Homo sapiens: one gene and its partner. The protein of the gene in region 1 purifies or fractionates together with the protein of each later gene. This does not show direct contact. Each region holds a gene or a part of one and is shown on either strand. Other genes may lie near its edges.

Region 1 (4,994 bases):
AATCTAGTTCTTACCAACTGCCTTCTCAAATGGAATAGAACTATAACACACAAATAAAAGGAAGATGTACAAGCACAGGGACAAAACAGGAGGAAAATAAAGACTAGAATGTGAATCTCATTTTCAACAAGTATCAGCAAGGAAAATGAGACCCTGGTTTCATAATTAATTAAATCTGCAGAATGCCAATTCCATTTGGTGTTAAACAGTAACCCAATATAAACCACTGATTCTGGAATAAGATTAAAAAAAAAATACCTGAGTGAATATAACAATATGGATAGACCAAAAAGAAAAAAAATCTCACACACAATAATCACTGCAAGAAGATCCCACAGGTTATAGAAAACATAAAGGAACTTTAATATCCAAACATTCAGGGTAAAGAATACTGGATTAATCACCCATTAAGTGTAAATCACTTCAGGTTCTTTACAGTACCAGAAAGTAAAATCTAAATTTTGCATATTGCAGAGAATGAAACCATTTTAAAAACTTTAATTTCCTTACCTGATACTAATACCAGTATGATTTTTAGACGGAAAAACTAAGAGTAAGATTTAAACCAAAGATAGAGGTGTTCCTGAAATGTGAATTTGTTCAGTAGTAACCTTTTCATCATGAGTACTGATACCACTTTCTTCTCAGAAAGTAGTCAATGTACATTTTAAGATTTGTGCAATAAGCCAATATGCTGGATAATAAAAACTGTTATTACTGGAGATAGTCAAAATGAAAGAAAACTATTTAAATTATTTATGCCCAAATAATTTACCCTGCAGTCCATGAGATGCACAGGAAATAATTTTTTTTAATAAGAGAACAATGAGGGTCCTAAAGTAGAAACATAAGCCAGAAGAAATCTAAAAATAGCTTCCTGATATTTTATTTTAAAATATTTCATTTAAGCTGCTTTTGGTTGCATGCCCTGATCTGTAGAAGTTAACAAGGAAATAAAATTTCCAAGTATTTAAAAAATTTACTCATCTTCCATAAAGCGACTTTTAATGTATCAACACTTAAAAATACACAGTGACTTAATGAAATATCAGCACAACTGCATAGAATTGAGCTCCAGAGAATTATACACTCGAGCTGTCTTTCCTGGGCTCTGGTTTATAAGGGTATTGGCTTAGAGACCAGCTTGGAGTCATTTGCCCCTACCCGGGAAATGCAGGCCAGGAAACTTAAGATTTTGCGGGCCTTTTCTGTTTCTAGGTAAAATGCAGGGAGCTCCCTGAAGGTCTTGAAAACCATCAACCATTCAAATATGTATACTGGGACCTTTCCTCTTGAGTAAAGGAAGAAGGAGGTTTGTGATCTTCACTGAAAACAAAGTGAAACTTCCCACACAAGTCTTCTAAGAGACTCTGAAATATACTAGAAATTTCAAAACTAGAACAATGCCATCAAAGATTAAACCTCTTAATGCTTGGAGCCACCCCAAAATAATAAAATCGGGAACTCCAGGAAAACAGGTACCAAACGAATCAAAATAATGATTGCACTGAGGATTCTCTTATCTGAAGGCTGTTTAAAGAGGTAGGATTTTAAGGTTTTTTTTTTGTTTATCTTTTGGCCTCTGAACATTTAAAAGATGCTTTGCCCAGCTGGTCCTTCAGGCAAAATTTGGAGGTCACAATGAACTCCAAGCCTGACACAAAGATATTCTACAGTTTCACAGCTATCATTTGTACATATTAAGTTGATTCACTCTTTTTGAGCAAATCTACCTAGAAAACGGCAAATTAATATATTCCTTTACATACAACTTTGTGTCTCAAAATTCTTGAAAAACAAGAGCAGATGACTTTGTATTCAAAGACTACCAAAGTATGTATTTGATTTTCACATGCAAACAACTTAAAACCTTATAAATCTCATGTCAACTCTGCATGATGCCTTGAAGGAAATGACATACAAAGTTTGCTAACTGTGCAAAATATTAAATTGCTAAAACATTTTACATAATGAAATAATACATGTAAATGTTGAAGTTGACACATGAAATTAACATGGCATAAGAACTTATCACATTTCAGATATTTTCTTTAGTAACAAGTTTTTGTTTTTATAGTTCCTGGTACACAGCAAAGTTTATCACGAAAGATAAAAATCCTTTTAAACAAATCCAACAGGAAATTCTTGAGGCACCTTCTCATATAAAACACAAGATGAATGCAATTATCAATCCATCTGAGAAAAGTTTTCAATCTAAATGAACATCATTTTTTCCATTTAAGTATATTTTACAGAACTTTAATAAGGCAAGACAAATTTGTGAAAAAAGATGTAGATACAAAAATGATGTAAACTAATAATTTATATTAAAAAACCCCAAAGGGATAACAGTGGAGATGGGACAGCTCAAACAATGCCTTTTTTTAACCTAAAACAGAATTGTGCACAAGCTGAAGATGACAAACAACTTCTAGACTCTGCACAGTTTTGGTTTTTTTTTTTAACATCTTTATATTACATGTTTTAAATCATATCAGGAATGCAAACTAGAACTGCACACTACTTCAGTGGAAAAAAGTTCAATATTGTGCAATTTTCTGCCTCTTAATAGTTAAAAAGTGGCAGCAATCCCTGCATTTGTGTTTGAAACAAGGATCTGAGAAACTTTATCAAAAAAGGTAATGAAGGCAAAAATTGGCAGACATCCAGCATCTTGTTTCTTTTTAAAACAATGTGGATGATAAGTAATTTCATGATTAAAAATGAATCTTTTAAATAAATACATTGTATCTGACATTTGCACTGACTGATTTGATAAATCTTTAAGTAAACAACGGCTTTACTACACTCCCTGTAGCCTCAAGCCACTGGCTTTAGATTCTGGAGTCCTTATTCACTGGGTTTCATACCCTGCCACTCGATACCCAGAAGGCTGATTGGGCAACATGCTGCCATTTTGCCCTTGAGGCGGTTGCACTCCATAATTTGGTCCCATCCATGGTGCAGAAGACTGTGTCTGACTGGTGGAGAATGTGAAAGAAGCAGAGGGGAGAGGAAATCCACTGATTAAAATAAAGTATTGGCAAGAACAAACAACAAGAACAAATATGGGAAATGGGAAACATACTTTTTCTTAATCCCAAATAGAATAATTTATGCTAGGGAAAATGAAATCTTTTACTAAAGTTTTTTTCTCTTAAAAACAAGCATCCCTGTATGTTTAATTTGGACAGTTTAATTTTGTTAGAAATTAAAGCTAAGAAAATACCCTGAACTTATCAACATTCATCTCCTTTGAATATAGAAAAACCTAACCCCATTCTTGGAAAAGAAAGCTATCCATCTCATCTCTATGCCTTGGTTGAACATATTTGCTGAGGAAACCACTACCTGAAAGAGTCAGGTAGGTTCCCTACAACGAAAAAGGAACATTATACTACTCAAAGAAGAAATCAAAACAATTATTAGCATATGAAAGCTCATAAAAATTCATAACATTACAAGATTTTCTTTTCTTTTCTTTTTTTTTTTTTTTTAAGACAGGTTTTCATTGTGTCACCCAGGCTGGAGTACAGTGGTATGATCTCAGCTCACTGCAACCTACGTCTCCCCAGGCTCAAGCGATTCTCCTACCTCAGTCTCCCGAACATCTGGGATTATAGGCACGCAACCACCATGCCTGGCTAATTTTTTTTGTACCTTTTGTAGAGATGAGATTTCGCCATGTTGCCCAGGCTGATCTTAAACTCCTGGACTCAAGTGATCCGCCTGCCTTGGCCTTCCAAAGTGCTAGGATTATAGGCATGAGCCACCATGCCCAACCACAAAATCCTTTTTTTTTTTTGAGACAGAGTCTTGCTCTGCTGCCCAGGCTGGAGTGCAGTGGTGTAGTCTCAGCTCACTGCAACCTCCGCCTCCCAGGTTCAAGTGATTCTCCTGCCTCGGCCTCCCAAATAGCTGGAACTACTGGTGTGCACCACTACACCTGGCTAATTTTTGTATTTTTAGCAGAGGTGGGGTTTCGCCATGTTGGCCAGGCTGGTCGCAAACTCCTGGCCTCAAGTGATCCACCCACTTCAGCCTCCCAAAATGCTGGGATTACAGGCAGGAACTACCACGCCCAGCCCACTAAATTCCTTTTTAACCTCTCAAGTATTTTTATTTCCAGTGTGTTTTTCAGAAATGTAAGTAAAATAGTGTAATTCAGGGTGTATAAGGAAGCTTGCAATGTAACAAGGCATATTGAAAAAACCCTTTGTACAGAAAAAAGCATAATGAATACAACAACTAGCATCAAACTCAGTGTATATAAGAATGGCTAAGTGACCATTAGTCATGTGAAAAGCTTAACAACTATTAAGCTCTTATTTTCTTACTAAAAAACAATTTTAAGTTCTTTCAAGGCTATAGTTACGCTTTACATAAGAGGCCCTATTACCCACTAATTCTTAAAATTTCTTCCTACTTAAAATTTCTTTAGACATTTTCAAAGGTTAGTAAAGGAAGACATAAGATATGCTTACTTAAATCCTTGCTGGTTCCATGCCTGGCCATACATTCCATATGCAGGAACTTGCCAACCATTAGGCATATACTGGCCAATTTGTTGTGCATTTCCATACCACTGGCCCCACTGGCCATAAGGTTGGGGATATCCAATTTGATTCTGCTATTAAATAAAATTTAGTATTACTTGAAGTTAACTATATATATACAATCCTAATATGCTGATACCACAAATTCTTAGCCAAAACACACAGGGCCATCATTACAATTAAAATGACAGGATAAACAAGAGTTGACTGCTAAAAAAAAAAAAAAAAAAAAAAAAAACAAAAAACAACAACAAAACAAGTGAGGTTATACTGCTGTAACTCTACGTGATACTCTGAATGGCATAGTTTTTGGAAGGCATCAGTTGATACCCTAGTAATAAATGTTAAACTTAGTAGAATGTTTAAGTGTTTGGTATACTATCTACATGATTGTTTCCTTTAGATAGGGAAGATGTGATTAATTATTTCTATATTCAG
Region 2 (3,500 bases), on another chromosome or scaffold:
AACATACCAGCTAGTATTACATTGCAGTCAATTTGTCCATTAATGGTATTACTCTGATAATTATTAAAATCTGTTCCAGGTATATATATTGAAAATATTTTCTTTTGCATTCTTGCTGAAGATAGGTACAGTACTTTGGAGAAATTGTACTAATCCCTTCAGTATGTCTGTATGTACATATATACACAAGTGTGTGTATCTGGATCTGTAGCTCTACATGCGCTTTATATACAGCTACAGACATATGCACACATACATATATACACACGTGGTTGAGAACCTGTGCATGTGTGTGTATCATCACAAGCACACATCTGGGAAACGTCAACACTGCAAGATACTGGTCAGATTCTTCTTCACTCATCACTGGCTGCGCTTGTTCCCCTCACTTGACCTTGATTACGTAACTGTAAGAAAAGTGAAAGACAGTGCAAAATGTGTTAAAATACAGAGACAGGAAATGTTAGCAGCTCGTCACACACACTCTCCAAATGCATCAAAACTTTTGGCAGAAAATGTACCCCAACTACTGCATCTTACAATTTTCATCTGTTCAAAAAGATTTTGGTCTTACTACTAATGCCACAATATATTGTCTCATCAGAGGGGAAAATAAAGTCGAGGCAGAAATAAATCACAAAAACTTAGGAGAGTTTAACAAAAGTAACAATAACTTAAATTTTTTTTTTTTTAATGAACATGGAATTTAAAAGTGTTTGGGGGGAATCTTGGAAGAGTTACTTCATTCTTATTTGGCACAACTAGCTTTTCTCACAACTGAACATTTCATTCATCCCAATGTTCAAAAATTAAAGAGCAGGTAGCTCATGTGGGGCAGCAAAGAACCACAGTGGAGGGAGGGGAGTGCTACATCTCGTTCTCTTTATAATAAACATTATAGTTCAGTATAAACAAATGATGACAGCACACTGTTGATTTTTGTTTACTCACACTGGTTTCAATTTGTGAGGGAGATTTTGATTTTTTTTTTTTTGCATCTCTGGGAAAATTTGTTATATGGGCATATAATGTGTTAGAGAAATAAGACCACAAAAATGGTTCACACCATAAATTAAAACTAAAGTGCATTTACGCAGAGTAAAGCTAACTGTAACAACTGAAGACGAAATATCAAGGAAGACTTTCTGGTGCACAGAAAATATTGCAGCCAAAATAAATTATTGAGGTTGGCTCGTATGGTATGGGATAGAGGATCTTTATTTGATCTCAAGTGATTTTGCATATTTCCTTACTAACCACAAATGGTTCTACAAAGAACCAGGTCAATTAACTCAGTATTGAAAAATCAGCTGGCTTCCAGGACAATGTGCTACATGATGAGTAACAGCACCTGGCAGCTGGGTTCTAACCCATAACACTAAAAACTAACCCAGGATTACTAAATTCAACCTGGTCCACAGGTAAAATTTTTAAAGACTATTAATAAGTGTTCACTATTAATTTCTAAAATATTTATCTTTTAAATTCTAAAAATAAAACCACATTTAACACTTAGAGCTTCTGCTCAGCAAGTTAACTGCCCATCACCAAAAAGGTACAGGTTTCGAAACATCTTTTTACCCAGGTCTTCACTTACACAGTTTGACATTGTCTCTGACCCTACAGGGGACTCATCTAGACATCAGCAGCCGACGTGCCTCGAACGGAACCCCTCTTACGCATCTAAACGTAAAATAAAATTGTGAGCTGCTGAAATCAGACTCTAAATAGGGGTTAGTAAGCAAGGGGAGAAAAAAGATCTAGAAGAGATTATGAAGTGATGTTCATAACCATATCCACATTAAGAATGAAGTTCTGTGGCCCCTCAAATAACCTTGGTTTGAAGACATTCTTGCAAAAGGCTTTTCTTAGCACAAAAAAGGTTTATCTATCCTTAACTGTAAAAAACAAAAGCCTGCAGACTGATAAAAAATTATCAAAAACAGCCAATGGGTAAACAAATTGTTTGCCAATATAATGTGAGAAAATACCCCAAGGGTCTGGTCCATATTTGCATAGTCCCTAGGCCAGACAAGCAAGCCATGAGGGTGTGGGCCACACCTCTTTGCTGCTTCTGAGAACAGGGTCTCTCAGTGGAGTCCTTTAAAGGAAGTTTACTGAAAGGAGGGAGAATGAAAGGGAGAAAAGGCAAGGAGGGAGAATGAAAGGGAGAAAAGGCAAGCACAGAAACAATGTATGGCAAACCATGAAGGGCACACAGATGTATTAGAAAGGACAGGCATTCATAACAATAGCCTCCAGACAAGTGACACCACTCAATGAGAAAACAAAAAACGAAATGAACAGAAAACAAACAAATGCAATAAATACGTTAAAACTCAACACATCCTCACCCCCACCCCGGAACCGGAGGTGCCAGTTAAGAACAAACAGGTAAAATGTTTACCTAAAGTCCTCCTTCAGCTGCTGAGCCTCAACTCCAGGGCAGTTCCCTGCAGATCATAGGCAGGGGCATTCCTCGTGTGCCTAACCTCTCAAGATGCTAGTTCTCTCCAGGGCCAAAACCCATTTGAAAGAAATCCAATTCTTAAAATATTTGTGAATTAAGAGCATTATAATGTCATTAAAATCTATCATCAGGTGTCAGGGGTCAGGACCTCAAGGAAAAAGAAATTTCTGCGTGTGAAGAGGACTCTAAAATGGGATGCCTCTTCAGGAGGCAGGTGCTTTCTGGGTAGGCATTCTTGGCCTGCAGGCTTGATGCTGCCCAGATTCTGAGGATGCTTTCACAAAGCCACCATTAGGACTCAAAGCAGCAGCATCTTGATTCTGTGTGTGGAACCAAGCACTCCCCAATGACCTACAGCAAAATAACTTAAATGGGATTCAACGTTAAGATGCACCACTTAATGGTGAAATTTGTCTTAAAATGTTTTTGAGATATTTGACAAAGCAACTGCTATGTACCCTCACTCTGAACCAATGATAGATTTTCCACCAGCTTTATGAGGGGGTTAATCAGTTTCAGCAATGTGGGTATAAGAATGGTGACACTAAGGAATTGGGCTTTTACTTGTCTATCTTACACCTTCTTCTCGAGTGCAATTCCCAACTCACAAATAACTGATCTGCATGGAGCAGCAGCTGCACCTGCAGGCCCACTGCCATAGGTGAGAGCAAGAGTCACCAGCTCCACAGCGGAGGGTCACAGCGTGTTGAGGCTGGGACCATTCTGTGTTCAGGTATCGTGAGGCTGAGGACTTGTTAGAGAAGCAAGAGCACTTCCCTGGGGGAAGAAATCTCAGTCAAGTTCTGTCCAAGGGGTCCAGAGATAGGTAGGGTTTAGAGTCCAAACCAGATAGGGCTTATCACCTGGTCAATGGTAACTACTCTTCCCCATGTGACACACAGTTCTTCAGCATAAAAATTAAAAACTGAGAGAAGGGCTCTTTCCCAAGGGTTTGAGCTGTTGGTAAATCCTTGTAGGAAATGCCAGTGCTGCATCATGGGCTTAGCGTGTTTGGGTGTCTCTTGCTGCT

What was found. Proteins that work in one complex are often made in the same cells at the same time.
Region 2: the proteins of TIA1 (region 1) and PITPNB fractionate together in Homo sapiens (co-fractionation; one large-scale study listed by BioGRID). This does not show direct contact.

The regions. Positions count from the first base shown.
Region 1 is NC_000002.12:70,209,865-70,214,858, forward strand, and holds part of TIA1 (cytotoxic granule associated RNA binding protein TIA1), read right to left. Parts: intron 4,631-4,994; coding exon 4,485-4,630; intron 2,982-4,484; coding exon 2,855-2,981; 3' UTR 1-2,854. UniProt on the Homo sapiens protein: RNA-binding protein involved in the regulation of alternative pre-RNA splicing and mRNA translation by binding to uridine-rich (U-rich) RNA sequences.
Region 2 is NC_000022.11:27,853,257-27,856,756, forward strand, and holds part of PITPNB (phosphatidylinositol transfer protein beta isoform), read right to left. Parts: intron 1,684-3,500; coding exon 1,636-1,683; 3' UTR 1,598-1,635; intron 408-1,597; coding exon of another isoform or gene 357-407; 3' UTR 1-356. UniProt on the Homo sapiens protein: Catalyzes the transfer of phosphatidylinositol and phosphatidylcholine between membranes. Also catalyzes the transfer of sphingomyelin.